Linked DNA regions of Homo sapiens: all the other regions are reported to be linked to region 2. Evidence: microRNA targets listed by miRTarBase, many of them from high-throughput screens and not tested one by one. Region 2 holds a microRNA gene; each other region holds the end of a gene's coding sequence. Distances are between the middles of the regions.

Region 1 (7,878 bases), not on the chromosome of region 2:
AGTTTGAGGCTCTGGTAGGGGCGCATGTGGGCATGGGAAGGAGCCCTGCACTCTGAGCACAGCCTCTCAGATGTAACGCAGTGGCTCTGGGAGGTCAAAGTCTCAGCCCAGTGGGAGCTCTGACAAAAGGAGGAGAAACCCCCCCAGTAGACATGTGGCTCTGTCTGATCCACTCCTGCCGCCCCTTCTGGCAACTTCCCTGGGGAGGGAGGACCTGCTTCCCAGCAGGACCTTCATCGAGTCACTGTAGGGGCAGGTAGAGTGGGCCAGGGAGCCACAGCTGAATGGCACTCAAGGGCCATCACTAGGCATTGCCTCTCCATTCCTGAGTGTGGGGCAAGGGTCCCTGCTGAGTTTTACTCTTAGCAGTGGGCTTCCAGATCCCCATGCTCCTGGGTTCTTGACTGCCTCCCTCTTCAGAGGTAAGACACATGGCTGGACCAAGGCCTCCAGGGTAAGTGACCCTCACCAGCTGCCTCTCTGTGTCCCTTACCTCCTCAGGGACAGCCCTGCCATCAAGGAAGACAGCACAGGACTGGGACCCACCCATGAACCCTTCTCAGGACAACCCAACAGCACCAGTGGGGATGTTCTCCTAAGCCGCAGAGGGCCTGGGCACGCCATCCGTCCTCCAGGAAGAGCCATGGTGTTAATGCAGGACAAGGGCAGCTCTCAGCAGTGGCCTGGTCTGGGGGGCGAGGGTGGTGGCACAGGTCCCTTAAGCATGCTCAGAGCTGCCCTGCTGCTCATCAGCCTGCCATGGGGGGCCCAAGGGACAGCCAGCACCAGCCTCAGCACTGCTGGGGGTCACACCGTGCCACCGACTGGGGGCCGCTACTTGAGCATTGGAGATGGCTCTGTGATGGAGTTTGAGTTTCCTGAGGACAGTGAGGGCATCATCGTGATCTCCAGCCAGTACCCAGGCCAGGCCAACAGGACGGCGCCTGGCCCCATGCTCAGGGTCACCTCCCTGGACACAGAGGTGCTGACCATCAAGAACGTGAGTGCTATAACCTGGGGAGGCGGGGGTGGCTTTGTGGTGAGCATCCACTCAGGCCTGGCTGGGCTGGCCCCACTCCACATCCAGCTCGTGGACGCCCATGAGGCCCCGCCCACACTGATTGAGGAGCGGAGAGACTTCTGCATCAAGGTCTCACCTGCTGAAGACACGCCTGCCACCCTCAGCGCCGACCTGGCCCACTTCTCGGAAAACCCAATCCTCTACCTGCTCCTGCCTCTTATCTTTGTCAACAAGTGTTCGTTTGGGTGCAAAGTGGAACTCGAGGTTCTGAAGGGGCTCATGCAGAGCCCCCAGCCCATGCTGCTGGGCCTCCTGGGCCAGTTTCTGGTCATGCCCTTGTACGCTTTCCTCATGGCCAAGGTCTTCATGCTGCCCAAGGCCCTGGCTCTGGGCCTCATCATCACCTGCTCGTCGCCTGGCGGCGGGGGGAGCTACCTCTTCAGCCTCCTTCTTGGAGGGGACGTCACCCTGGCCATCTCCATGACTTTCCTCTCTACGGTGGCTGCCACTGGCTTCTTGCCTCTGTCTTCGGCCATCTACAGCCGCCTGCTCAGCATCCATGAGACGCTCCACGTGCCCATCTCCAAGATCCTGGGGACCCTGCTGTTCATTGCCATCCCCATAGCCGTGGGCGTGCTGATCAAGTCCAAGCTCCCCAAGTTCTCCCAGCTGCTGCTGCAGGTCGTCAAGCCCTTCAGCTTTGTGCTCCTCCTGGGCGGCCTCTTCCTGGCCTATCGCATGGGGGTCTTCATCCTGGCAGGCATCCGGCTACCCATCGTACTGGTGGGTATCACGGTGCCCCTGGTTGGCCTGTTGGTGGGCTACTGCCTAGCCACGTGTCTGAAGCTGCCAGTGGCCCAGCGGCGGACGGTCAGCATTGAGGTAGGGGTGCAGAACAGCCTGCTGGCCTTGGCCATGCTGCAGCTATCCCTCCGCCGCCTTCAAGCTGACTATGCCTCCCAGGCCCCCTTCATTGTGGCGCTGAGCGGCACCTCCGAGATGCTGGCCTTGGTCATTGGCCACTTCATCTACAGCAGCCTGTTCCCAGTTCCCTGAGGCCTCTGGGTCAAGCTTTCATCAGCCCCAGCCCCCACACTCCACCAAAGTTCTCATGCACTATGCACTCAGAAAAATCCAGGCTTATTTTTTTTACTGATTTTTTATTCTCCAGCTTTCAGTGCCAAAGAGGCCATGCTGAGTTAGGTAGGTGGGCGCTGCCCAGAAAATATATTTCAATAAAAGAGAGAAGCAAGCTTGGGTCCCTTCTACTCTTTGCCCTTTGGGGCCTGGGCGTGGGGGTAGAAAGAGTGTGCTGGGTAAGTGTGGACCAGGGTGGAGGGCCAGCTTGGGTGACACGGTGACCCCTGCATAGGCTTTCCCTATCAGCCCTCCCCGGGGGTGTCCCCACTCTGGGAGAGGTGGGAGGATGAGGGCAGAGGCGTAGCCCCCCTGCCCCCTCTCAAGCTCAGTGGAGCGTTTCGCAGCCAGACCAGAAAGGAGGAGGTAGGAAGCCACCAGACAGGGAGCGGGGGCGGGCCGTCTGTGGGTATGCAGGGCCAGGCGCCGCCAGCAGTCCTGGCGCGTGAGGTGGGCCAGGCAGTCCGCGGGGGCGAGCGTACCTTCTGGCCCTCCCTTCTCCATGTCCCAGCTCCCAGATGACGCCAACCTGGCCCGACTGGTTCCTGCTCCCAACTCCCCCGCGTCGTTGCTTTGGGAGGGGTCCGCCGGCCAGGGCGGTCGATGCGCGCATGCTAGGCGGGACCCCGGGGGGACTCCTCCCGGGGCGCAATTGGGCCGGGGGGCGGGGCCGGGGCGCGGACGGGGCAGGAGGGCGGGGCCGGGAAGCGCGGGCGGCGGGCGCGCCCCTCTCGCTGCTTCCGGCGGCGGCGGGCGGTTCCAGCGCGCGCCCGGGGCGGCGGCGCGCGGCGGGGGGTGGTTGGGGTGCGCGCCGGCCCGAGTGGACGCCGTCGCGACCGCCATGCAGCTGACGGTGAAGGCGCTGCAGGGCCGCGAGTGCAGCCTGCAGGTAGGGTCCCCGGGCCGGGCCGCCGGGTCCGGCGCGCTCTCTCGCCCGCTCCTGGCAGGGGGACCGGCAGGGCCGAGGGCGGGCACGGGGCGGCCGGGCCGAGGGCCGGGAGCCGGGAGAGCTGCCCTCGGGGGCGGACGCGTGGGCTTCGCCGTCTGGGGGCCGCGGGCTCAACCCTTGCCTCCCACCCTCCGCGCGGCCAGGTGCCAGAGGACGAGCTGGTGTCCACGCTGAAGCAGCTGGTCTCCGAGAAGCTGAACGTCCCAGTGCGCCAGCAGCGGCTGCTGTTCAAGGGCAAGGCCCTGGCAGGTACCCAGGGAGAGGAGACGCCCGGGGAGCCCCGCAGGAAGCGGGACCGGGGTGCGCGGGCCGAGGCCAGCAGCCGTGTGTCGGGTCGGGGTGCGGGCGCCAAGCGCCACATGACCCCAAGGGAGGCGGCCGCATGCCTCACAGCCGGATGCCGCAGCGCTCCGCTCCCGCCGCCCGAGGCGGCCTCGCGCCCCGGGCCACCCCCACGGCGGTGGAGGAGGAGGAACCCATCGATCTGTCTTTGGCAGATGGGAAACGACTCTCGGATTATAGCATCGGGCCCAACTCCAAGCTCAACCTAGTGGTCAAACCCCTGGAGAAGGTGCTACTAGAAGAAGGCGAGGCCCAGAGGCTGGCCGACTCCCCACCCCCGCAGGTCTGGCAGCTGATCTCCAAAGTCTTGGCCCGCCACTTCAGTGCGGCAGATGCCAGCAGGGTCCTGGAACAGCTACAGAGGGTGAGAAGGGTAACCCTGGGCATCCTCTTCAGGCCCAGTTGCTCCCAGCCCCTACCTCTGTTGCAGTGTATGCCCCCCCACCACTGGCAGCCCCTGAATCTTCCTGCCCTTCTCTCCCCAGGATTACGAGAGGTCCCTGAGTCGCCTGACGCTGGACGACATCGAACGGTTGGCCAGCCGCTTCCTGCACCCTGAAGTGACTGAGACAATGGAGAAGGGCTTCTCCAAATAGAATTCTCGGAGCATGGGGAGGTGCCCAACGCCAGGCTACCGCTGCATGTCGCACTAAGTGTGTTCTCCTGTTGCAGTTGGGCTCATCATCATCATAGCTGGCATGTACCTGGCTCTGGCCAGGTGCTAGGCACTCCTCACAGCTTGACCTGGGTTTGCTTCCACACCCTCAGAAGAGGAGAGCCGGCACAGCAGAGGCACCGGCGATGAAGTGGCACAGCCCCAGTCGGAATCCAGCGGCTTCTGAAAGTGCCTTGGTGTGAGAAGGAGGAAGGGGCCGCTTGGAGAGCTGGGCTCTCGCATGTCATGTTTAGCCCACTGAGAATATACCCTCAGGTGACTCCCTCCCGATCCTGAAAGGGAAAGCAGCTGTCACCTGACTTCTGGCGGGTCCAACATAGCCCTCAGCTTACCTCTGCAGGAGGCCAAGTGACAGCCAGCCCTGGAACCCCCCGACCCCCGCAGCTGCTGCAGCCAGTGTGCCAGTGTGCGTTCGACAAATGGAAAAGCAGATTGGGGCCAGGGAGTCAGCAAGGCACCCCAGCTCTGTGATGTGACTTTGGGCGAGTCTCAGTGCCACTTGGTCCCCAGCCATGGACTCTATACAGTGAGGGCCACTCACCGACCTGAGTCAGTGTCCTCTGTCTCACAGGGCCCCTCTCCCTTCTGTTCAGTAAACAAACTGAAGCCAAAAATGAAGCCGTGGCCAAGTGTGACCCAGAGATGGGGTGTCCTGGCCCTTAGTGACACAGCTCCTCTCTGGGGCACCCTATCTGCTTGTCTCGTCCAGGAAGCGTTAGGGCTGATGGGTGACTCAGCAAGGCAGTGTCAGAGCTGGGACTGGGCGTAGGCCTTTGTCCTCATCCCCAGCACTGGCCTCCCTGTGGAAGATGAACATATCCCAGCCACCTGTGTACAGGGGCTCACTTTGTGTGCTCCTTGTTGCCTGAGAAGAAACCTTGGGGTGCCAGGGTGGGGGCAGAAGCATGGACTGGGTTCCGGTTCATCCTCCTCCACCCTGCCGTGTGTGTGGGCACAAGAGGACATCTAACCACCTGCTCCTTGGAGGAGGCCCCCAGGGGTGGTAGAGGCTGGAAGGAAGCCACATCAGGAGGACGCCACTCCGGCCCTTCACCCTTGCCAAGTGAGCTGCTCACAGTGTGGTCAGGGCTGCGCGTGCTGGAGGCCCTCCTGCCTGGGCCTTGTGGGGCAAATATTGGGTCCCCAGGCTGGAAAGATGGACAGAGGCCCAATGGGTGAAGGCTTTGAAGAGCACACAGAAGCCCCTGGCCCCCCACGAGAGCTGGAGAGCCATGTATATGGCTTCAAAGCCACCTACGGCAGGGACACACTCGTGAGCATGTGTGGCCTGCAGTTCAGGTGATACATTTACCAGTGTTCTTGTTTGTGTGGTGCCAGGAAATTGATTTTGGAAAAAGTGAAATAACATTAAAGGTGAATGTGAGGCTTCTACTTTTATCCAAAAGGAGCTATATTAGCTAGGCTGTTTCTGATATCCAATCATTGGTTTAACAATAAAGGCAATTTGTTTAATCAGTTAACGGAAATTTCTTGGCTTATGAAAGTGAAAAGTCCAGTGGTATTGGCATTGGCAGCAGGTGAGCAATTTCACCCAGTGTCTTCTGCCTCCCTCTGCGTTGGTATCTGCTACATCCCAGGCCACCACCTCCGAGGATGAAAAGATGGCTGCCTGCAGCTTCCACGGAATCCCTCCCTCACTGCCAGAGCAGCATCTTCTCTGTGTACCACCTCTGCTGTCTCAGATGCCCCCAGCAAATAAACACTCTTCTCGTTGGTCAGAACTGGATTGTGCGTCCAATCATTTTGGCTGGGGTAGGGGGTAATTCTCCGTCAGGGCTGGCTCCCTGGAGCTAGGCATGGGGCCACTTCCCTGGACACACATGGGCTATGCAAGGGACAGAAGGCTCTGGGGGAGGGCTGGATGAATGGATATCCTCAATGGTGGCCGCAAATGGCAGCTGTCCACTACAGGGGCCATGCATGTGTCAGATCAGGGCCACCTCGCAGGTAGTGGAGGAGAGGGCTGGAGGCGTCAAGATCACACAGGGAAAGCGTTTTCTGAGGCTTGGGTTAGGGAAAGCACCAGAGAGAGGAAACACTGCAGGGATGGGAGACAGGAAGTGGGGGGATCGTTAGAGGACACTGGGGATTCTGCATGAAGATGGAGCAGCCACAGGCTGCAGCCCCCCCAATGCTGAGATCCTTTAACAGGGGTCAGAATGTTTACTGCAGGTGCTGCGCCCCTCTGAGCCAATTGTCCGCCCTGAGAGGTAGCACCGAGTCATCCACTGCCCCCTGCCCGGTGAAGGGCCCTGAGACCCACCACCTGCCCCTCAGGGAGGGGCCTCGGGACAGTATCTGAGTCCTGCGGCCATGGTGTGACTACAATGACATCAGGAGATAGCAGCATGAGTGAAGGGCCCAGCTGGGATGAGGTGCTTTTGGTGTCGTTTCCCAAGGGCCCACGGGAGGAAGAGCGGCCTCAGAGGACAGCAGCATTTGCCTTGGGGTGGGGAGGTTCCCTGGCAATGGATCAGCTGGTGTCCCATGTGAGCCTCACCAGCTCCAATAGATCTGCCCGGGCCTGGTACTCCCAGGAGTAGATGCAGCAGAGGTGGCCAGCCTTGAGCCTCCCAGCCCTGAAAAGCCTTCAGGAGAGATGAGAGACACACAGCAACTGCCCTGTCCTCCTCCAGGGCCCAGCTGGAGCGGCCTGCATACACCTTCAGGGCCCCACTGAATGGCCGGCAGTCCTCATTCCTCACCCTCTTCTGCCTTTGCTCTCCCGCTGTTTCCACCACTTGCTCCTACTCAGGCTCTCTTGCTGGTTCTTCACACACACCCCACCCCTCAATGTTGGTGCCCCAGGGCTCTGTCCCTGAGCCCCTTCTCTTCCCTCTGTATCACTCCTCGGGGAGCTCATCCAGCTTGCTTTCTATTTCTGTGCCTCACTGCCATGTCTATGTCTCATCCCGGCCCTCTCTCCTGAGCTCCAGCCCATGTCTTCCAGACAGCGCCTGACTTTGCTGCAGACGACACCCTGCTCATCACTGAGTGCCCCCTTGTGTCCCAGGTGCTGGCAACCCTGAGACTGGAAGACACAGTCCCTTCCCTCTTGGCACTCACGTCCAGCACTGGCCGGCTCCTCAGCACACACGTGTTCTCCACGGCCCGGCTGGAGGACTGGCAATGCCACTCAGCCAGGCTTCTGAGGGAGCAGGAGGCCATCTTTGCCTCTCCCAACTAGCCATTCTCCATAGGCAATCAGGCAAGAATATTTTTGGAAGCATCCAGGGCAGCTGCTACTGTATCCTTTCCTCCTCTGACCACACTCACCCCCAGCCCCTCATCAGGCAGCTGGCAGGGTCAGGCTGCCCCACTGTTGAGGACGCTCAGTTTGATCACGTGATCCAGGTGGCTGCTGCCAGATCTCTCCCCTGTAAAGACGCAGTTTCCCTTCCTGATTCACAAGTAATTTGGGGTAATATTTGGGGACTTTGTGAATATCCTGTCCCCAACAACCTTTCAGCTAATGCTTTTGCCATCCAGCGACAATTCCTTGCCTGAATCGATTTTTTTTTTTTTTTGTGAGACGGAGCCTCACTCTGTCACCCAGGCTGGAGTGCAATGGCGTGGTCTCGGCTCACTGCAATCTCTGCCTCCTGGGTTCAAGAGATTCTCCCGCCTCAGCCTCCTGAGTAGCTGAGACTACAGATGCATGCCACCACAGCCGGCTAATTTTTTTTGTACTTTTAGTAGAGATGGGATTTCACTGTGTTGGCCAGGCTGGTC
Region 2 (7,878 bases):
GCCAACCCCAATCCCGAATGATCTGGTTGGTGGGTGTTGAAAGGTACCCATGCAGAAATACTGGAGAAGAACGTGGGATGAGGACTGGACAAGCAGGGAGCAGAGAGGTGATCTCCCAGAACATCTGAGCCTTGGACTATGGGAGATGCTAGGGTCTTAGGGATGAGGAAATGGGGTACCTTTGGCCTCTGAATCCAGGGATGGGGTCCCAGCCTCTCGCTGCTCTCCAGAGTCCACAGACACACTCCGGTCCCTCTTCACCTTGCCCTTGAGCGAGCTGAAAGGGGGCACCCCTGCCTGGGGGTTCTTCAGACTTGAGTTGCTAGGCGAGATCTGGTTGGCCTTGGCCCCATGGTTCCCCGCCCCCACGCCCTTCGAGCCCACGTTGCAGGTGGGTCCTTGGTTCACATTCTGGTGCTGAGATTGGGCCCCGCCATTCCCTGTCTTGCCATGATTGGTCAATTTATTTTCTGGGTGCATTGGCTTGGCTGGGGCAGGGGGGCAATGACCGCGGGGGGACAGCGGCGGGCTCCCTGGAGCTTCTCTCCTCCTGGGGTGGGGTAACCTGGGAGGAGGTGGGAGAAATGTGAAAAGTTAACCTTGCTAGGGGCTAGGCATGCCTGCAACTTAATTACCCCATCCTGCCTCCCCTAACAATGGGGGAGGGTGGGGGGAAGGGGTGGTATCTCAAGACCACCACCAGCTATTCTCTACCTCCCTCCATGGCTTCCTCAGACAAGGGCTGAAGCCCTCATCCACCTTGGGGAGTGGAGATGGGGAAACCCTCCACCCCCTAGCCTCCACAATTTGAATGGAAACCAGGGCCTAGAGTTGGCAGAATTCACCCACCTCAGCCCCAAAACACCCATCAGCCTGCAAGCTTCTGTGGCAACCCTGTCCTCTGTATCAGACTTAAGCATCCTCTCTTCTAAGATCTGCTGTCTTCAGACTCCTTCCAAGGTCTCAAACCTCAACTCCCATATGTCCCAACACCAGCAGAGAAGGGCCACAGGACCTGGGGTCACTGCACATGCCCGGGTCTCATTCCCCAGGGACAGTGGGAAAACGCACACCAGGGAGTGCTACCCACTGGTCCAGACAGCTGGAGGGGAAGGCCTGAGGAGGGGGGCTTGGCAGGCCAGGCCGGCAGGCAGAAGCAGGAGGAAAGGGGGAGGGGAGCGGTGTGTCAAGCAGATGGGGAGTGTAGCTTGAAGCCAAGGATTCCTGCAGCCTAGGCTGCGGGCCCTTTAAGCTCCAGCCCGCTCCCCCCGCCGCCTCCCCCTCCCCGGAGACCTATTAATAGCCGCTGGAAAGATCACATCACGGGAGAGGATATTTATCCCCCCTCATTCCACACCAGCTCAGATTTATTTCAGCTCTGCTGTCCTGCTGCTGCCGCCTGGCCCTGTCTGCCGGCTTCTCCGGGGAGGGGGGAGGGAGGCAGGCACCGCCCCCTACTCCAGCTCCCACCTCCAGCTAGACTGAGGCCAGAGGCGGCCTTCGGACCCCACAGTAGGGTGGGAGGGGGTCTGCTCAAACCATTTTAAGGAGGGAAGAACTAGAAGGGACCAGAAGCCGCAAGCATAGCTGGCTGCCAGTCCCCTCTGCCCCCCACCCAGGCCCAGGCACTAAGGCTGGCTGCGCCTCCTGCCTCGGGCCAGGCCTTCCCATGCTAACCCCCCTTTAGCCCACTGGTGGCCTGGGAGCCAGGTGCCCAGGGCGGCTCCTCTCCTGGCCAGCACAGCTTGGGCCCCATCACCACTGGGCCCTTCCCTTCCCGCACTCCACACACACACATCCCACCCGCCACGACACCCACACACCTTGTCTTGTTAGCCAGGATCCTCATGGCTCCCACACACAGTGGGGCTACGGCCCCTGTGCGTGCCCAGGGCCCAGCCAGGTACTCGGTACTGGAGCACGGACTGCAGCAACAAGCCCCAAAGAGAAAACTCGTGACTTGGGGAGGGGGTGTCAGAGGGGGAGGGGAGAAGGGAGGACCCAACAGCCCTGGGACTAGGGAGCTGGATAGGGTGGGGTGGCACTGGAAAAAGAGGATTACGAGATGGGGTCTCGATCCTGGAGGCCAGCCCTGTCCCCATCCCTCCCGCACCTTGCCCTCAGGGGGCTTGCAGTCTCCAGCAAGCCTCCGCCCCGACGGGCGGCAGAGACAGAATTCACTAAAAGGCTAGGTAGCAAAGGTGCCGTGTGGGGCGGCTGTGAGGTCTCCCCTGGCCCCCTGAGGGATTCCTGCTCCCAGACGCGCCCCTCACCCAGGGTGGGGTACCCCTCGTGCCCCACCCCCAGAGCGCTCCAGCCGTGGAGGGGGCCCGGGGTTGGGGCCACGCCCCGCCCCGTCCCCAGCTCGAGGCCTAGCCCGTGCCCATCCCAGCAGGCCCGGGCGGGCAGCGAGAGGCCTGGCGGGGCCCCGGGGCTGCAGCTGGGCTCTTCTGGAGACCAGTAACGCTGGCTCGGATTCCTCCCCGACCGCAAGAATGCAGGAGCCTCCCCTCCCCCCGCCCTGCACCCCCACCCCGCCCCCTTCGGCAGAGCCCGGGCGGAGAGGCAGAGCGAGCGAGCGACAGCCAGCGAGGCAGCGAGCGGGAGGCGGACAGGACTGCAGCGTGCTTCTCCAGGCCCCGCGCGCGGACAGACACACGGACAAGTCCCGCCAGGGGCTGGGCGCGCGCCAGCCGGCAAGAGCTTGGCGAGCCCCGGGTGCTGCCAGCAGAGGCTCAGAGACCCACAGACACCCGAACTCTGACTCACACACACTCACAGCTCACACGTGGACAGGGAGACAAGACACGCACGGAGCCCAGGAAGCTAGAGGCGCGCCGAGGCCAGGGAAGCGCCGCCGGAGCGGGAGGCGCGGAGACAGCCTGGGGCACGCGCAGACACCGGGGCTGCCCGAGGGCTGAGTGGGAGCGCCGGACCCATTGAACAGATGAAAAGACTGAGGCCGGCCACAAGAGAGCCGAAGAAAGTTGAGCCTGGTAGTCACAAAGAAACACGCACAGGGCCATAGATACAGCAACAGACTTACACAAACACAGAGGCCTCACCCAACCGCCCCCAGCCCTGGCTCCCCCCTCGCCTCCCCTACCCGCCCTCCAGCAGCCCTCCAGCAGCCGATCCCGGTCAAAGGGGAGGAGTCTTGGGCCCAGGAGCTTCGTCCCGGTGACAGGCCCGGCCAGACACCGGTGCACACTCCTGATGCTCCCTGCGGGGCTGCTGGAGGCTGGGCGGGGACCTGGGGGTGAGGGGGCCCCACCTGCCACCCTGCGGGAGTCTAACCCCAACTTAACCCTAGGGCACATTGGCCTTCGCCACTCCAGCCGTGTCTCTGGGGAGGAAGGCTCCTGGGGGAAGGTTCCAAAGTCCAGGACCTGCCTGGGAAGCAGCCCGCCACCCCCAGCTTCTCCATCACAACCAGGGAAGAGCAGAGGCAGAGGCTGGAGTCACTGAGATACCAGGGCTCTGAGCAGGCTCCTGGCTGGCATGCATCTCAGGCTCTCCCTTCACCAGCTCGCTGATTCTCAAAAGGATCGACCCCATTTCAACGAGGAAACTGAGGTCTGGGAAAAGGAAGTGGCGTGACCTTGAGTCACATATCCAGTATGTGGCAGTGTGGGGACGGACCCTCATTCCAGACACTGCAGTGACCCCACCTCCCCACGCCAGCCATGACTGCTCCTCTGAGCCTGCATCAGATAGTTGGGCTTCCCACATTCCAGCCACAGTGCCCAGGTCCCCCATAAGGGGGGAGGGGCAGGGCAAGGGCCACTCACTACCTATGTTCACAGCCTCAAAAATTGAGAACCTGTAAGAATTTGGGAAGGGGCTATTAGAAAATCAGTCCTCTCCAGTGGCCGTTCAGGCCTAGGCTCCTCCCCAGAAGACTCTTCCAGTCACCCTCCCCTCCGGGACTCCACCCCCTCTCTCCCACCCCGCCGCAGGGCGAGCTGAGTCAAGCGTGGATGAGTCAGGACTTTCCCATCTCACACCTCCCCCCTTTGCCCCTCAAGAGTCTGCCCCAGCTCCCGAAGACCCCTCCTCCTCCACACACTCACAGTCTCCGAAGACACCTGGAAGGCCTGGTGATGGGAAGCCAAGAGGGCTGATCCCAGCCCAATGCAATTTTAAAGCACCCAGTGAAGGGGGCTTGCTAGTACCAGGCCAGGGGCCCTTGAGGTACGAGAAAGCAAAGGGATGGGGCTCTGGGAACACGTCACCGTGCCTCCCTCTTAGGGGGTTAGGTGGGGAGGGGTAGCAAGCTCACAAACAGGGAGCAGGTGCGAGTCACCTGAGTGGAAGGCCAGGCGCATACCAGGAGAATGAATCGGAGGAGCGGAAGAGGCGGCTTGACAAAGGGCCTGAGATATCCATCCGCTCCCCCACCCCGAGTGACGCGAGGGTAGGAGCTAGCAGCCTAAGGGTTGCTAAGGGTTAAAGTGGACTTGATCCTAGCTGGGGGAGGGAGCTGAGGAAGGCTCAGATGCCCAGAGCCTCCAGGTATGACACACCGGCTCTGCTCCACACACAACTACCACAGGTAGGGCAGGCGTTCACACATCCAGTGGCAACCTGCCTGCTCCTAGCTGCCCCCACGTTGGGAGCCTCTGCTTGGCTCACCAGCTGGCCCAGCAGTGTCACTGCCTAGCTCAAAACCACCCCAAAGAGGCAGTGAGGAAATGTTTTGGAGGGTTCATGCTCCTGAGCTGCCAGGGCCCCCTGTGATGACGTGAAAGCCCAGGACCCTGCTGGGGACAACAGGGCGAACGAGATCCTTGGCCTCTGGCTCAGGGAGATACAGCGCCCGAGACGACAGGGTCCCAAATCCCCTTTCTCCTGGGTGTCAGGACCCCTCAGTCCTCAGAAGCTCTCTCCACCACTCAGGTCACTTCCTCTTCCTGAGGTGGTGACTCAGCGGGCAGGGAGGTCAAGGATTCGTAGCCCAGCAGGAAATCTGCTCAAGGACCAAGGTGCTGCTCTGGGACCCTCGATGTGGGGACTTCCAGGCTTAGGGGGCCTTCCCATGGCCCTGGTTCCTAGTAGCTCTCCACACTTCCCCCGACTCTGTGCCAAAGGAGACCATGCAAATCAGCCATTTTTGCTTGGGAGGTTTTCCCTGGGAGTTTCCAGCCCCACCCCACCTGCAGCCCTAGGGTAATGTCAGACAACCCCAGCTCCACAGGACCAGGGAAACTCCTGGTCCCAGACCTTTCTAGTCTGGGATTGTTGAACAGGGTACTGGGGGGTGATCGGCGGTTTTGCCCATTCTGGCCCACTGTCCCTTCTGGAGCCTGCACAGACAAGTGGCATTGCTTGGACAGGCCTGAGGTCACCTCACTTCTCTTGGCTCCTACAGTCATTGTCAGTGTGGCCGGGCCTTGGGAAGCAATCATGGCCTGGCAGTGGGGTGCCCCCAAAGACAGCTACCCAATCCCCAGCTGCTCCCTCCCACAGGGGGAGGGGTAGAGAGGGGGTGGGGGGCACAAGGAAACAAGACAGGGCAGGAAGCCCAGGCAGGCGGCGGGCACTCTGGGCCAGGCACAAACAACCAACACAGGAAACCACAGCCCACCCCCGCCCACCCCACCCGCCCAAGGCTCTGGGAGAGAGGAGTGCCAAAAGCTTGGTACCCCAACAGAGGCAAGGGCCAGGGGTTAGCCCAGGGCAAGGGAGGAGCAAGAAGCTCTCCAGTCCTCTCTCTGCCCCAGACCCTACCTGGGGAGGGTAGAGGGAGCCAGGCTGGCAGGGATGGTGCTGCCTCTTTAAATCCACCGAAATCCTGAGCTAGGCCCAACCTAGCTCTGGTTTCACAGGAAGGAAAGGAGCTCAGGAGCCAGTAGGGCAGGCAGTGGTGGCTGGAATTAGCCCCACCGGCCCAAATATATCTGGTCTCTGCCCGCCGCCCCACTGGTACTTCCTGTCCCCTGGCACCTGCACCAGGGTGGGGGTAGGAGATGATCCAGGTGCCACTCTCTACCCTATGGAGACTCCCATCTCAGGAGGTGGTGTGGTGCTGGGTTCACATGGGTAGAAGGTAACTTCCCAAGCCTGGGTTCCCAGAACAGGCAGAGATGGGCAAGGCAGCTCCCTGTGGGCCCTCACCTGGCCTCAGTCCTCCAAGGGGTTAATCTGTCCCCTATTTAGGGGGGTAGGGGTGGCCGAGGAACCTCCTCCAAACTGCCTGGCTGCTGGGAACAATGGGGCCATTGTGGGAGGATGGAGTGCAGCAGACTGCTGGCACAGCCAAGCGCACCACGGTGGGACCTCACCCAGCGCCCGCCCGCCTGCCTGCCTGCTCTGCTCTCTCCCCAGGTACAGCCAGAGGCAGAGGCATCCTCCTGGCCCCTCACCTCCCCTGATGGCTCACACTCTTGGCAGCAGCAGCACCTGGGGGCCCCACGAGCTCTGCCCACATTGACATCCAGACTGTCATGACCCTCCAGGATGCAGGGGCACGTGGGCCAGGCCGGGAGGGGTGGGGGTGATGAGACAGGATGTATGCCTGTGACCTCTGCAGGGAGACAGAAGGCCACACGGGGTTTCTGGTGTCAGTCCTGGCACCCTCAGGCAAGAAAGGCTTAGGGGATTGTGAGAGCAGTGACAGGCAGGGTCCCCTGTCCCCAGGCCTCCTCTCCCACACCCATTCAGTAAAGCTGCTCCCAGAGGAGGTCTGGTGCCTGGTGGCCTCGCCCTCTGAGGTTGGGGCCCTGGCAGGCAGTATGATGCAGTGGAATAAGAACTGAGTTTGAGGGCCGGGCGCGGTGGCACACGCCTGTAATCCCAGCACTTTAGGAGGTCAAGGCAGGTGGATCACGAGGTCAGGAGTTCAAGACCAGCCTGGCCATGATGGTGAAACCCTGTCTCTACTACAAACACAAAAATTATCCAGACATGGTGGTGGGCGCCTGTAATCCTAGCTACTCAGGAGGCTGAGGCAGAGAATTGCTTGAACCCAGGAGGCGGAGGTTGCAGTGAGCTGAGACGCACCACTGCACTCCAGCCTGGGCAACAGAGCGAGACTGTCTCAAAAAAAAAAACCAAGTTTGTAGTCAGACAGTGTCAATCACACCCTGCCCCTTCTCATCTATGGGGCCTTGTCCTTCCCTTTATCCCTCTGAGCCTCAGCTTCCTCATCTGCAAAAGGAGAATAATTTTATAGAGTGAGGTAACAGTAGTGAAACTAACAGAATGCCTAAGACACACCAGCCCTTGACAAACCACTTCTGGCCTCAATTTCCTTATCTCTACCTCCTGCCATGGCACCCAAATATGTGGGCATTTGGTAAAGGCAGGCACTGTCCAGATATTTTCCCTGTGAGTGTCCAAGAGAACAGGGCCTGTGGGCATCATATTAGTGGTACCAAGTAAAAAGACTTGGCTCCTCCCCTGCCCTCCTCTCAGAGGTCAGCTCCCTCCGCTGGCACACTCCTGGGCATCCTGGGCTCACCGACACACTCAAATCCAGAGCATGAACCCAGAGAGGGGCTGGGTGGCTGTCCACTCTCTTAGCCTCAGGACCATGTCTCAAAAGTCCAGGAGGCAAGTGAAGGGGGATTTCCCTTCAAGAGAGCCAGCCTCCCCTCTGCCAGGTCCCCTTCTCCCTGCCTGCCCCTTGGCAGTCACCCTGTAGTACTTGGGCTGGGAGAAAGCTTAAGCCTACTCTCTTGCCATGGATCTCAAAGGAAGGGTCTGGGAGAGAAAGAACAACTGACAAGCAGTTCTGGAAAGTAGGGGGCCCAGGGAGAAAACCTGTTCTCTTCTCAACTAGACAGGGCTGTATCTCTCAGGGTGGCCCCAGAAGCCCCCAAAGGGTTAACAAGGCCCTAAAAATAACCTGCGCCCAGCAGGACCCACTGATCGGAA
Region 3 (7,878 bases), not on the chromosome of region 2:
AACTTGGGACATAGAATGGAGAGTCCAGGAGGAATTGGGAATCCTGGCTTTCATTTCCTGATGACCAATGACTTCTGCATAATATTGCACAACTTCTCTGCCTCATTTCTTCTGTGAAGTAAATACTGGCAGCAGATCTTGTTGGCTAGGATCCTATTGATTTTCTTTTTAGGACAGGGTCTCACTGTGTCATGCAGGCTGGAGTGTAGTGGTGTGATCATAGCTTACTGCAGCCGCCAACTCCTGGGCTCAAGTGATCCTGCCTTAGCATCCTGAGTAGCTAGGACTACAGGCATGTGCCAGCAAAACTGGCTAATTTAAAAAAAAAAAATGTAAAGATGGGATCTGGCTGTGTTGCCCAGGCTGGCCTCGAATTCCTGAGCTCAAGCTATCCTCCCACTTTGACCTCCTAAAGTGCTGGGATTAAAGGCATAAGCCACCATTCCCCACCAAGGTCTTTGAAAGCAATAGATATCTCAGTGTTTATCACTAGTGTTAATTATGTAGCCAGTTCTATTCTTTATTTACTTTTTTCCCTTGTGGTACAGAAGAAATCTGTGATTTGGGAGGGAGCTTATAGGGAAGGTTCTGAGTGACAAATGAGCATAACACATTTAAATTGACAACTGAGCGTGTGTCTTGGTTGGCAGGCAGGGATCAGGGTGAATGACCTACTCAGAAAGAGAATGGGATCTTAGGTCTAACTTGTGGCCCACAATAAGCTGTGGGTCACTCTTAGAACAGTGCACCTCGACCATGGCCAGGGTCCTGTGTGAGTTCCTTGTACTTGGACTCCTTTCTGTATCCTTGGCACCCTCTCGAAGCTAACCTCAAAATTACCCGGGCCCAACTCTAGACCTCTCTTCAGGGTTTAACTGCTTTTCACAACAACTTTCATGGAAGGAAAATCATGTTGTAACAGTAGTTGCATTCTAGAAATGTATTTTGCTGTTGTTGGAACTCTGGCATTAACGTGATACTGAGAAAAGAGTGTAGGACTAAAGAGCAAAAAGAGAATCAAGGCCCATGCTGCCATTTAAATGGTTGTGTGATCAATCTCAAAGAGAATACTTAACTCCTGCATCTAATTTCCCTAGTGGGGACAATTCCTATAAGATAGGTTTGTAAACCTATAGGTTTCCTATAAAATGGTTTGTAAATGGTAAGATGCTAGGCAAGTAGACAAGATTGTTGTCTAGCAACTAAGATTATGGACCAGTTCTACCTGACAGTTTCCCTTCTGCAAGTTTGGAATGATGAAGTTTACCCCTTCCGATGAAGAAGCATGCAGCTGTGGATAATACCACACTAGGAGATGAAGAAAGAATCATCTCCAGTGATTCCTTCCTTAAACCGCTATCTATCTTCACTGCAGACCTGGAGGAGGGATAGGCAGAAGCCTCTTGTGGCAGTAAACAGATCCTTTTATGGCAGAAACAGGGCCAGAACAGAGCTTTGTTTTTACATATATATATATATATATATATATATATATATATATACATACACACACACACACACACACACACACACACATATATATGTATATATATAGTCTCTTTGCCAGTGTTTTCATACCTGATCAATGTTCAGCAGCCCTCTTGGGGATTTCTGATAGTGGTGATTCACAATGTATCTGAGGCAGAAGTAGAGGGAAGGAAGACAGCGAAACATACAACGTCATCTTAGGGGAAAGTGAGGTTCTTTAGAGTCACTAGGATAGCTTGAGTAACATAAAGACTCATAACCACCTTTAGGATCCCCCTTTTTTTTTCTTCCGGTTTCTCTCCTTCTCTTGCCTAATTTCTTTGCCTGCAGAGTTGGACAAGTGTAACTCAGCACGGAGGCTCCTGTGCTACGGGTGTGAGCCGACATTCTCAGGCACTTTGGCGATGAGCCTCATACACAAGTGAAGGCTTTAAGAAGTCCGAGGAAACTACTAGAGCTTGAACCAGTTTACACAAAAACACTTTAATTGACAGTATACAATTTTCCAAAATATATTTTTGTAAGAAAATGCAATAATTATTAACTATAGTTTTTACAAACAAGTTTCTCAGTAAATTCCAGTGTACTTCAGACCCCTGTCCACTAAGACATATATGATCCCCCAGTTCCTGGGCAAACTGTTGAACATTCACTGCAGACAAAAAGACCAACACCAAAGAGTCATCTGTGTCCTCCATGCTGTGTTTGCAGCAGACCTGAGGGATCAGCTAGTGACCGTGACAAAAGCTATGCTACAGTTTTACTCTTGCCCTCTCTGCCTCCCCCATCATGTTTCCTTGGTCCCTCAGTCCTGTTGGAGTAAGTTCCATATATAAAAGCTCATCCAAAACTTTGTTTCTTGGCAGAAAGAAAGAATTGTTCACTTACATCTTAAACCTAAATGATTCAGAGAAAGTGTAGAAGACCAGTTCTTATGTTTGTGTTCATGCCCTCCCTAGCCTTGCTAGGGTAACAACTGGGAAAGGAATTCTGTCCTTTGTGTCATTCTGGCACCTTCGAGTAGCAATTCTTAATTTACCGATTATTCCTTCTGAGGCGCACAGTCTGTGGATCCAGGTTTTAATCTTGTTTCTGTCCTGAACCATGTGATTTTGAGGAAGTCACTTCATCTTTGTGAGCTTCAGATTATCTTTTTCTCTAGAAAAAGATTGGACTAGATCTTGAAATACCTTTCTCCATGACTACAGGGTTGCCTGCCAACCAGAGCATATTGACTCCAACCTTTACTGAAATGGAGCTGTGACTTTGCTGGGGAGGGGGCAGGGTTGCATTTTAAAATTAAAAAAACAAAACAAAACACCTGATCTACAAGACAAATACTTTATCATAAGTTTGTCTTGTTATATTTCATTTTTTGTTTAAAAAAAAAAATCAAGCAAAAACTTGTCATTTCCAGTAAGACATTTACATTCCTGTCCAGAGAAAAAACTTGGCCATCACTCAGCTAACATAATGCTTTTTCAAAGTATGTTCACTTAAAGCAGTGCAGGGTAGGTTAACATGGTCACTGTATTTACATTATCAAAAAAATATGTGTATATGTATCAGTTTGAACTTGTTCTTCAAAGTTTCTCCAGTATATTGTCAAAAAAGATAAAGCTCAAGAAGTGGTTTAAATAAACTTTCTGCTAGCTTTCCTTATCAAGCGGGAAAAAAATCTGGTGCCTAGACTAGATTAAACCCGTATTCTGTCTTACAACGCAAAGAATATTCTGTACCTCCTTCATAAGCTTTGCTGCCTGTCTCCCCACTCTCATGACAGTAGGCTTCCTAGTCATCATACTTGTGGTTTCTGGCCTCCTGTGCAGCTTGGGGAAACCACAGTTTACCACTGAAAGAGCTGATGATAAACTGTCTTTGCTACAACCTGTTTAAGTCATGCTGAGCTTCTAGTGTTCCTCTTACCTCTTCCCAGACCCAATGCTCTCTGAATTATCAGAGAGCATTTAGAACCCAGTAAAGGTGGCAGAAGATGATGACCTTTATAGATGCATGGCTGTTTGGCCTGTTGACATAGGTGTCCTGGTGGCAAGAGCAAGGCAAGGTGTCAGATTCTGAAGCTGTCCTAAGCCTAGACTAACACAGTTTGGACGAATATAAAGCAGTAACCTCTGAATCAGCCCAGAGCCTCTCCGGGTTCTCCTTGGACAGAGCGATGGAGAGTCAGGAGAGTCAGGACCGACCTGGCCAGGCACTCCTGCTCTCTAGTCCTTGCCAGTCATCATCTGTCTCCAAGAGGCCATAGGGTTGCAGCCTTTGATTGATTTGCAGAGGCCTATTTGCTGTCTCCGTCAAAAGCCCTGGCTGGTGAAGTGTGACCCAGGATCAGCAAAGGAGGAATAATCCAGTCTGGCCTCTCCCACGGGACCACAACAGAAAACCTACTGGGTGGAGAGAACCCAGCGCTGGGCAAGAAGGAAGCAAACACCTCACTCAAGCCTAACAAGATTTCCTGTTTTCCCCCAAACAGGCACTGTTCTCCATCCTGCCCACCTCCAAACACTAGAGCATCGGGGCAGATGTTTTTGGAACTTGTTAGCCTCGCATCCCTCTAACTCCTGGGAAACTCGCTGGGGCCCTATGTGAACCCCTGGCCTTCCTTTTCCCCTAGGATATCAGATGGCTACAGACTGTGAGGAAGGAATTAGGCAGATGGTGCAGGACAGATCTTCCCCAGCCCCTCCCCCTACCCTTTTAAAAAGTAAGCCATCCCGAGTGGATAGCCTATTTCATCAGAGCTACTACAGCCGGAGCCTGACTCTTAAGACCCTGGAGGTGTGGCGTTTCACCCGAAAAATGGCAATTTCATTCCCCTAAGCAGTTCTGCCCATTTTCCTACTTGATCCCAGGGAATTTACGCCCAGAACGATGGAGACCATGGCGAAAGTTCAACATTCCACACAGGATTCCCCCTTCTCAATCAGATGAAACCTCACCATGCCCACTGCTTAGGAGCCTTCTACATGGCAGCTAACTGCCGAGCCCATAAAAGTCCTATATTGGGGAATAGACATAGCTTTGTGTTCCCCTGAGATGCCACCAGAAACTGCAAGAGAACCGCAGCAGCCCCACTAGGCTCACAGAGAAGAGGAACAGCAAGGCCTAGCTCCAGGCCAGGACAGTGGGACGTTCCCACAACAGTCTGTCCCCCAGGCTGCCCTTCATGCACCCAGCATGCACTGCGCTTTCCAGGCCCTCTTTTCCTGTGGCACAGGAGAATCAGAGTGAGTGAGATGAGCTAACTGGACGTCTGCCAACTGTCTGAGCTTTTGGCCTTTGGCAGTGGAGGGCTGGGTTAGAAAACAACTATAACAAAACTCTCAGCAACTTGAAATGTCCCTGAGTTTCCTATGATATACAGGGGAAAGCCTGTCCTTCCTGGCTGCTTTAATGGATTGTCTCTGAAGACACATCGCTGATGGGGGGCCCCGGGAAGGCCTCTCCTGCAGCCACTGCTCTTTCATACTGGGTCTCAGGGAATCACTCCCATCAGCTGAGCAGTGAACAACAAAAGGAACACGCTGCTCTCACTAGCTACAGCAGATTTTAGTCCCTGGTGGAAATGGAAGCCCAAAGAAGATCGTGGGTGGCCTCTGCAAGGAGTGCCAGGGGCAATGGGCCAGTGTTCCTGCTGACCCCTCATCAGCTGCCCTGAGATACCAGCCTGGACTCGAGTGTCCCCTTCTCTCCTCACCTGCACGCAGGTCCCCTAAGCAGACCTGGTTCACGCACGGAGACCTGTGTGGGTTAAGCCCCCATCTCACGAAGCAAATGTGAGAAAATCCGAATCCAGAACAAGGGGTTCAAGGTTATGAATAACCTGTGCTAATCCCAGAGGCCCCAGGACAGAGTAAGTGGGAACAAACACTGAGTGTAGGGAGGGGTAAGAACATAGAGGGTGGGAAGATGGGTACACGAGGCTGGGGTAGGAGAAGGAAAACTTGGGAGCTGGACTTTCAGGTCGTCAGATCCCACCGAGCCAGGATGTAGCCCTGCCCTCCTTTCCAGCCCAGCCACCTGCTGGAGTTTCACCCCTGCCCGGGACTGCTCTGGACGGAAGGCACATGTGAACACAGCAGTGTGGCATGGTGCAAATGGAATCTTTGTTCTCATCCTGGCTCTGTCACCAAGTGGCTCTGACCTTGGGCAAGTCACTTACCCTCTTCAGGTCTCGGCAATCTCACTGCAGAATGAAGGGATTCCACTAGTTCATCTATAAAGTCCCTTACGTGGCTTTTTCTTGATCTCCCTCATCATCCAGCAGCACTGAGCTCAGGCACTAGTGGGTTATTTTACAAGAGGAATCTGGACAGAATGTGATTTGTTCAGGTTGAAAAGGGAAAAATTAAGGCCCTGGGGGGATTGGGAGGGGACACCCCTCGGAGTTCACTCTCCCTCCCCAGTCTTTCCCTTCCCCATCCAAACGGCACTTGGGGTGGTTGGTCTGGAGCTCTGTGGTGCTGCTGGAGGCCACCGGCAGACCGGACTAGAGGTGTGTGTCTTCCTCCTCATCCAGGTCGTCCTTGGTCAGGTTGTCCAGAGGGACGATCCAGCTGTCCCCCAGCTCCCCGTTGAGGCTGACCACCTTCTTCTCCTGCATCTCAGAAGAGGTCTCCATCACTTCCAGTGTTGGGTTGTCATGGTAACCATTCTCCACTGTCTGCAGCTCCTCTGTTAGCCGCTGCTAGAGTGGGGAAGGTGACCGGTGAGAAGGGGGTTTCAGAGGGCTCTGAGCTTAATACAGCGCATGTACGTACCCCTCCCACTCAGGAGCCCCACTGTAGCTAAAGCAGGCCCTCATTGCTCGCCTGTGGGGCTGGCTGCTCCTGGTGGTCATTCTGGCTCTCAGCCTGCCCGGAACTAGTTGGGAACAAAGACTTGCCCCTCACCCTCACCCTGGTGGCAGAACCTGTGAAGTTAGTGGAGATGGACTTTGTTCTCCAGAGTCCTCTAAGCTCTCTCCTCCCCTTCATCCCTTCCCCCAAAACCTCCTCTCCAGGCACCTACCTCACCTATCATAATGAATGGGAAAAACACTATTAAAAAATGACCTCTCTCGGGCTGGGTGACTGAGCCCTCAAGCCTGGGCAGGATGGGTACGGTGTCTCTAGAATCATCCCTGCGGCAGACAGCAGCCATCTGGCAGAGGCGCTTTCTGTCCCTCTCAAACACAACCTTGAGTGTATGCTAGAATCACCTGGGGAGCTTTTAACAACTACACTGATGGACTCAGAGATTGTTTGAATTGGTGTGGGAGGCAGTCAGGCAAGGGAATTTTTCTAAAGTTCCCCACGGTGTGCAGGCAGGAGTGAGAACCACAGGGTCTGGGTGGCACCATCATGGCGAGAATTCTAGTAAGGTAGGCAGAAGAATTTTTGGTTAGACAGAACACCTAGGCCTGCTTCTATCAATGAATCCTCAGACCAGCTCTGCAAGGAGGTTATCCCTGCTGTGCAGATGAGGAACCTGATGCCCAAAGAGCTCATCTGACTGACTTCCTCAAGGTCAGGGCCAGGACTAACCAAGTCTCCCTGACTCCAGTCCAGGCGTGGTGACTCACACCTGTAATCCCAGCACTTTGGGAGGCTGAGGCAGGCGGATTGCTTGAGGTCAGGAGTTCGAGACTAGCCTGGCCAACATGGCGAAACCCCATCTCTAGTAAAAATACAAAAATTAGGCGGGCGTGGTGGTGGGCACCTGTAATCCCAGCTACTGGGGAGGCTGAGGCACAAGAATCACTTGAGGTTGCAGTGGGTGACACCAGCCTGGGTGACAGAGCAAGACCCTGTCTGAAAAAAATAATAATAATAAAATAAAAAATAAATAAGTCTTCCCGACTCCAAAGCCCACGCTCTGTCCTCTGCCACGCTGCCTCTGTAATGCTCTGTGGACTGAGGCGGCTGCCTATCAGGGGTGGCCTCTGCCTGTTAGAAAGGGTCCAGGGCCTGCTCCCTTTCCTCTTCTGCAACTCGGGAATCACGAGGGGAGGGTTCCTCTGGTGACCTGGGCTGCTTCCCCTGTGTGGCTGCAAACAGCTGCTTACCTGGTCCTTCCTCTGGGAGAGGCGCTGGTGGCAGCAGCCATAGAGGGCCGCCACGAGGAGCAGGAATGATGCCATGCAGACGATGGTGATGATGAGGGGCATGCTGAAGCGGTCCTCGGCCTCCTCCGGTGGCCCCTGGTCCCCTAGCTTCATGTCACTGACCCCTGCCTGCATGGGAAGTGGCAGAGAACAGGCTGGGGGCATCCTCTCTCCCTCAGCCCCCGGCTTCACTGTAGAGCCCCTCCGCTTGCAGTCTGCTAGGGTCCGTGCCGCCGCCCTCTTCTACATGCAGGCACATGACGGGGTTCCTCCCCACAGAGAGAGGG
Region 4 (5,000 bases), 750 kb from region 2:
GCGGGATCGTGGTCGCCCTGCGTCGGCGCCGGCACACCTTCAAGGGTGACTACAGCACCAAGAAGCACGTGTATGGCAACGGCTACAGCAAGGCAGGCATCCCCCAGCACCACCCACCAATGGCACAGAACCTGCAGTACCCCGACGACTCAGACGACGAGAAGAAGGCCGGCCCACTGGGTGGAAGCAGCTATGAGGAGGAGGAGGAGGAGGAGGAGGGCGGTGGAGGGGGCGAGCGCAAGGTGGGCGGCCCCCACCCCAAATATGACGAGGACGCCAAGCGGCCCTACTTCACCGTGGATGAGGCCGAGGCCCGTCAGGACGGCTACGGGGACCGGACTCTGGGCTACCAGTACGACCCTGAGCAGCTGGACTTGGCTGAGAACATGGTTTCTCAGAACGACGGGTCTTTCATTTCCAAGAAGGAGTGGTACGTGTAGCCCCCCTTCCAGAGCCTCTGTCTGTGACCGCTCCTCCCCAGCCCCTCCCCGCACGCCCCCTGCCCACCCCCCACCTCCCACTCCAGGAGCTGAACAGAGACTTGCCCAGCTGCCCAAAGCCAGCCCCGAACTCCTGGGGGGCCAGGGGAGCCCAGGGCAGCCACGACTTGGCTTTGTGTTTTATTTCCTCCCTCTCCTCCGCCCTTCCCCATGGTGTTGTGTTCGACTGTGGCTTTAGTGTTACTGTATCTTCCCTTTACGGGCCCCACCTGCCTGCCCTCTGTGTAGGGAGCCCTGTTCTCGTCTTGTGTACCTGGGCATCCCTCCAGGGTTTGGGGAGCCAGCCTCCCCCGCCCCCCTACACTGGAATTTGTTTGTGTTTCTTCACTGGGGGTGGAGGGCTCAAGGGGCTCTAAGAGGGAAAAGCTCCCCACACCCCCAGATGCTGCTCCTCCTCCCGGCTAGAGGGAACCCAACACCCACCAGTGAAATCTGATGCAGCTGGGAGTTTGGACCTTGGGTCTAGACAGCTGGTGCGCCCAAGAGGTAGGGGGAGGGGTGCGGCTTCTCCCCAGTTCCCAGGGAGTCTTGTTTGTTAAGCGGGGCCTTGGGCAGTGTTTTCCTGCTGAGGGTGGTTTTACATTTTTTTTCCTCATTGGCCCACAGAGAGTGGAGTTGGCCTAGCTCTGACGCGTCCCCTCTTTATCCCCAATGTGCCCCCTCCATTAGGGGCTCCAGGTGGGCTCCAGCCCACACTTGCTCTCTGCCTCTGCTGACACGTGCACACACACACACATGCACACACTGCTCCTCTCTGCCTGCTTTCCCCTGGAGTCCCATGCCCTGCCCCATCCAGACACTGCCCAAGGCCCACCCGTCTATTTCCACCTCATTCCCCCTTTAAGCTGAGAATGGGGTCTGCCTATAGAAGCTTCCAGAGACAGCTGAGACTGGGTCCCCGGTGCCTCCACCCTAGGATCTCAGGCCTGCCCCAAACTGCTTCTTACAGCGTGGAGGTTTCTCTGATTTCTCCCTTATCTAGCAACACTTGGTTCTTTTGGCTAGTCAGGGCTGGGATCCCAGGGGGATCCACCTGCAGGAGTCAGAGGTAAAGAAGCATCCACACGGAGGGTAGTGGGGAAGGAAGCCCACATGGCAGAAGCTCTGCAAACACAGTCCGAGGGACTGAGGAGTCCATACAATGCCTCACACACAAAGGCCATTGTCAAAGCCTCGGGCCTGGCAGAAAGTGAGGGGGGTGGGGCCGCTAGGCCACCTCCTGCTCAGCCACCCCTGGTCCTCATTCTGGGATGAGGGGAGGGCCTAGGAGAAGCCCTCCCTTTCAGTGCAGATTCCCTTCTTGAATGGGACATTGAGTTCCTATCAGCCACCCCAGACTGGGTCTTCCCATGTATATAATGGAGGAAGACCCCTCCCAGCCCTCTCAGTCCCCCAGCTCAAAGTGCCTCAGTTCCTCCATCTGCTCCCAGATCCCCTGGCACTCTAGACAGGCATGCCCATGGGAAGGACCCTGGGATGGAGAGGCAGGCTTCGCGGCCCTTCATGCCTGCCCACTGGGATTCCAGTTAACTCACCCCAGGGTGTCAGGGGCTCTGCAGGATGGCAAGTGTTGGGGAGGAGGGAGGCAGACCACTCTGTGCCCCACGGGCACTGACCCACCCTGCCATAGGCTTCCTAAGGGAGCCCCCCAACCCCTCCCCTCCCCTCCCTGGTGCTGCTATTGAACCCCCTGCCAGCTCCATTTCTGCCCTGGCAACCCTGGGCCCAGCAGGTGGGTCGTCGTTGTCTGGCCCTCACTGCCCTGGCCCCAGCCCAGGCTGCCCAGTAGCCACGTAGCAGAAGTCTGAAGCCATGCCAGCCCTGGTGCGGCTCTCCCCTCTACACATTTGGGGTACTGGATAGGGTGAAGTTAGGGGAGAAAATTGTGGAGTCTTTCCAGCCACAGGGCAGAGGGAGGTGGAGGAGCTGGGCTGCTTTTCCCAGCAGTATTAGTGTCCCCCAGGACAGGGGACCTTTTCCACATTACATCACTGCCCCATCCCACCTTACAACACTCTGGCCCCTCTGCTTGGTCCCCTTTTCCCCCAGGCAGGAGGCAATCCCAGGGGCCTGCCTGATAGAGGCATTTCCTGTCCCTGTCTCCTCCTGCATCTCCTTTATCCTGCACTGCCACCCTCTATTCCCCATTCTGTGTTGGACTTTGAAGGCCCCAAGCCCAGCCAAAGCACTGAGTTCCCCCTTAAGACACCTCCACACCCTCCCCACAAGCAAAGCACAAATTTTGGGGTCCATGTAGCATGGGCCACGTAGGAGGCTCCTGACTTGCCAGGGGCCCAGCCTCAGCATACCCACCGAGCAGCTGCCAGCCTGGGCTGAGGGTGGGCATGAGGCAGGAGTCAGCACTTGGACCTAGGGATGTGAGGTTTTCTGTGCCCCAAGTTTGTGGGAAGGTGGGCACTACTGCTGGGCCCACAGACACAGCCAGCTGGCAAAAGGGAGGTCTAGCCCAGCAGAGAGATGAGGACATTTTGCTTCTCCTTCATGCCCACAGCATGAGCTGAGCTTCTGCTTTGCTGGAAATGAAATAAACTTGGTATGAATTGTGCCAAGGCCTCCCCAGTTGTCATCCTGCCTCTTGTTGCCCTCCCTGTCCTTGCCCCCCACCCCACACCCATGCCCCTGTTTCCTTACAGATTTTGATATTGTTCTAATGTGTAATAGAACCAGCCGAGTCCCCTTTTATCAGAAGGGTCTGAAAAGCAGCAGCACAGAGTAGGTGAACACAGGCCTGCAAGTGCGACCACCTCAGACCCAGTACGTGTGCCCACAGTGGACACACTCACACCTCCAACACACCCACGCGCAGGCATGTGTACACGCATGTACACACGCATGCATGCACAGCCAGATGGCCACTCAGCACAGATGTGGCAGAGGGAATGGTCTGATCCTGCTGAAAGCCATTAAGGAGAAACGAATTTCCCAGTGCCCGGGCTGCAAGAGAGCCTTATAGGGGCCCTGTTTCCTGGGCATGCGCTTCCTCTGCCAGCCAACCCCCACTTGCCCAAGTCACTGGTGCAATAACTTTTCTGCCTTCCTCAGAGCAGAGAAATTGGGAATTGTGTTAGGTGGGTGTGGGCAGCTCTGCTGAGCCAAGCAGACACGGATGTCCCCTCTTCTGGGAGGAGGGTAGTGCTCCCAGGCCTCAGGAGTCCAGACAGAGACCCCCAAAGCCTGACTGCCAACAGAAACCCTCTCCTAGTGAGGGGCAGGTGGGTGTGCCCCAGGTCCCCACACCCACAGGGAGGCTTCACACACTGCCCAGTACCGGGGATGCCAGGAGGCAGGCCCCTCTGCTGCTGCCACTGCTGCCAACACTGCCCAGCTTGTGAGGCCAGGAGGAGCCCCTGTCCCACTCGGTGCTGCTGCTCTTCTGACCCCTGCTGTGAGGAATGGGATTCTTGGTCGAAAAAATTGGTTTTCCTTTTTTGTATAAATGAAAAGAATCCAGGAGAAGCTGCCACCCTCCCCTCCCAGCGTGATGCGCTACCTTGCTTCGGCGTCTTGTCGCCCTTTCCGCCTTTGGTCCAGGGACAGCCCAGCAGATCCTCCTGGTTCTGACCTGGGGGGTGTTTGCATCACCCCCTTTTACTTGTATTAAAAAAAAATGATGGGTTGAAAATGTACTGAGGATTAAAAATGTACTTTTTTATAAATAAAGTGTTTAAAACAAACTGGTTTGCATCCCATCACTGCCCTGCTCCATGGCAGTGGGGGCGGGGAAGGCGTGGAGCTGGAGGGGATGGCACAGAGGGATAGTGAGGGGAAGGGACCCCCCACCCCATGTCCAGGTTCCAGGGTTCCAGAGGAGCAGGAGCCCTGAGGGAGACTGCTCACAGGCTGCCCCGGAACCATCTTCCATGCAAGTGAGAAGACCATGGACTTTGACGACAGCATCGCAGAGGGAGGGGTGGGCGTCCACAGACACAGGAGGGAGGCCTTTAAGAAAGTAAGGCCTGAGAGGGCTGGGGGTGCACACAGCAGAGAGGGAAAGCCCTGTGCCGGCTGGTGCCCTCCTAGGGGTACGGGTGCCTCCTGCCCCAGATTCCAGTTCCCCTATCACCCACTCCTGCTGTCCTGTTCCTGCCACGTCCCCTCCTGTGGCTGTTTGGAGAAGAAAACCAGCAGTGTCACGCCTGCCGTGTTAGGTCCCTGGGGACGGAGAAGAGCTGAGAGCTTTATCCTTTCATCTTCTATTTCGAAGCTACTGCCCCGCCCCATCCCCTGCAAGCTCTCCCTGTGACCCACCCCTCCTGTACCCCCCCATTTTTCTCCAGGGGGCTGGTTGTTTGGAGAGAAGGTCTTCTTGTTCCTCGGTTACCTCCCCGCTCTCCCCACCAGCACCATCTGCTTCCCATCTCCTGGGCTGGAATGCAGGACAAATCGATCCTGGGGGTGGGAGTGGCAGGGGCTTCAGAGACTGCCCCATCCCAGCCATCCCTCCGTCACCCCCCGCACCCAGTAGCATCTCCTTTCACT

Evidence for each region. Region 2 holds the annotated microRNA hsa-miR-4492 (GGGGCUGGGCGCGCGCC, at 2,675-2,691, shown strand). A microRNA usually pairs through its seed, bases 2 to 8, with sites in the 3' UTR of a target mRNA and lowers its output. Matches are read on the target gene's strand: a 7mer-m8 pairs with bases 2 to 8, a 7mer-A1 pairs with bases 2 to 7 and ends in A, and an 8mer does both.
Region 1: miRTarBase lists SLC10A3 as a target of hsa-miR-4492. Seed matches in the 3' UTR shown: 7mer-m8 at 2,105-2,111.
Region 3: the mRNA of PODXL is a reported target of hsa-miR-4492. Seed matches in the 3' UTR shown: 7mer-m8 at 4,797-4,803.
Region 4: the mRNA of NECTIN1 is a reported target of hsa-miR-4492. Seed matches in the 3' UTR shown: 7mer-m8 at 478-484, 7mer-m8 at 560-566, 8mer at 1,186-1,193, 7mer-m8 at 1,876-1,882, 8mer at 2,269-2,276, 7mer-m8 at 2,316-2,322 and 1 more.

What each region holds. Positions count from the first base shown.
Region 1 is chrX:154,481,706-154,489,583 of GRCh38, reverse strand. SLC10A3 (solute carrier family 10 member 3) reads left to right here. Exons shown (of 2, transcript NM_019848.5): 2 at 502-2,273. The coding sequence starts at 644. The coding sequence ends at 2,077. It overlaps UBL4A (ubiquitin like 4A), which reads left to right and starts at 2,969. Exons shown (of 4, transcript NM_014235.5): 1 at 2,969-3,047; 2 at 3,251-3,356; 3 at 3,605-3,813; 4 at 3,935-5,867. The coding sequence starts at 3,000. The coding sequence ends at 4,045. RefSeq lists enhancers at 2,366-2,425, 2,763-3,521, 3,522-4,280, 7,534-7,593 and silencers at 2,686-2,945, 3,436-3,585.
Region 2 is chr11:118,908,091-118,915,968 of GRCh38, forward strand. It overlaps MIR4492 (microRNA 4492), which reads left to right and starts at 2,618; the gene lies at 2,618-2,697. BCL9L (BCL9 like) reads right to left here. Exons shown (of 10, transcript NM_001378213.1): 3 at 1,824-1,925; 4 at 180-565. The coding sequence starts at 1,849. RefSeq lists enhancers at 1,171-1,712, 2,796-3,335, 3,603-4,802, 3,878-4,419, 4,420-4,961 and 3 more.
Region 3 is chr7:131,498,316-131,506,193 of GRCh38, forward strand. It overlaps PODXL (podocalyxin like), which reads right to left. Exons shown (of 9, transcript NM_001018111.3): 8 at 7,553-7,720; 9 at 1,956-6,193. The coding sequence ends at 5,996. Among named protein-coding and RNA genes, the nearest start is that of PODXL, 54 kb to the right of the region's middle. RefSeq lists an enhancer at 7,344-7,878.
Region 4 is chr11:119,660,187-119,665,186 of GRCh38, reverse strand. NECTIN1 (nectin cell adhesion molecule 1) reads left to right here. Exons shown (of 6, transcript NM_002855.5): 6 at 1-4,195. The coding sequence ends at 440. Among named protein-coding and RNA genes, the nearest start is that of NECTIN1-AS1, 47 kb to the left of the region's middle. RefSeq lists enhancers at 1-52, 53-591.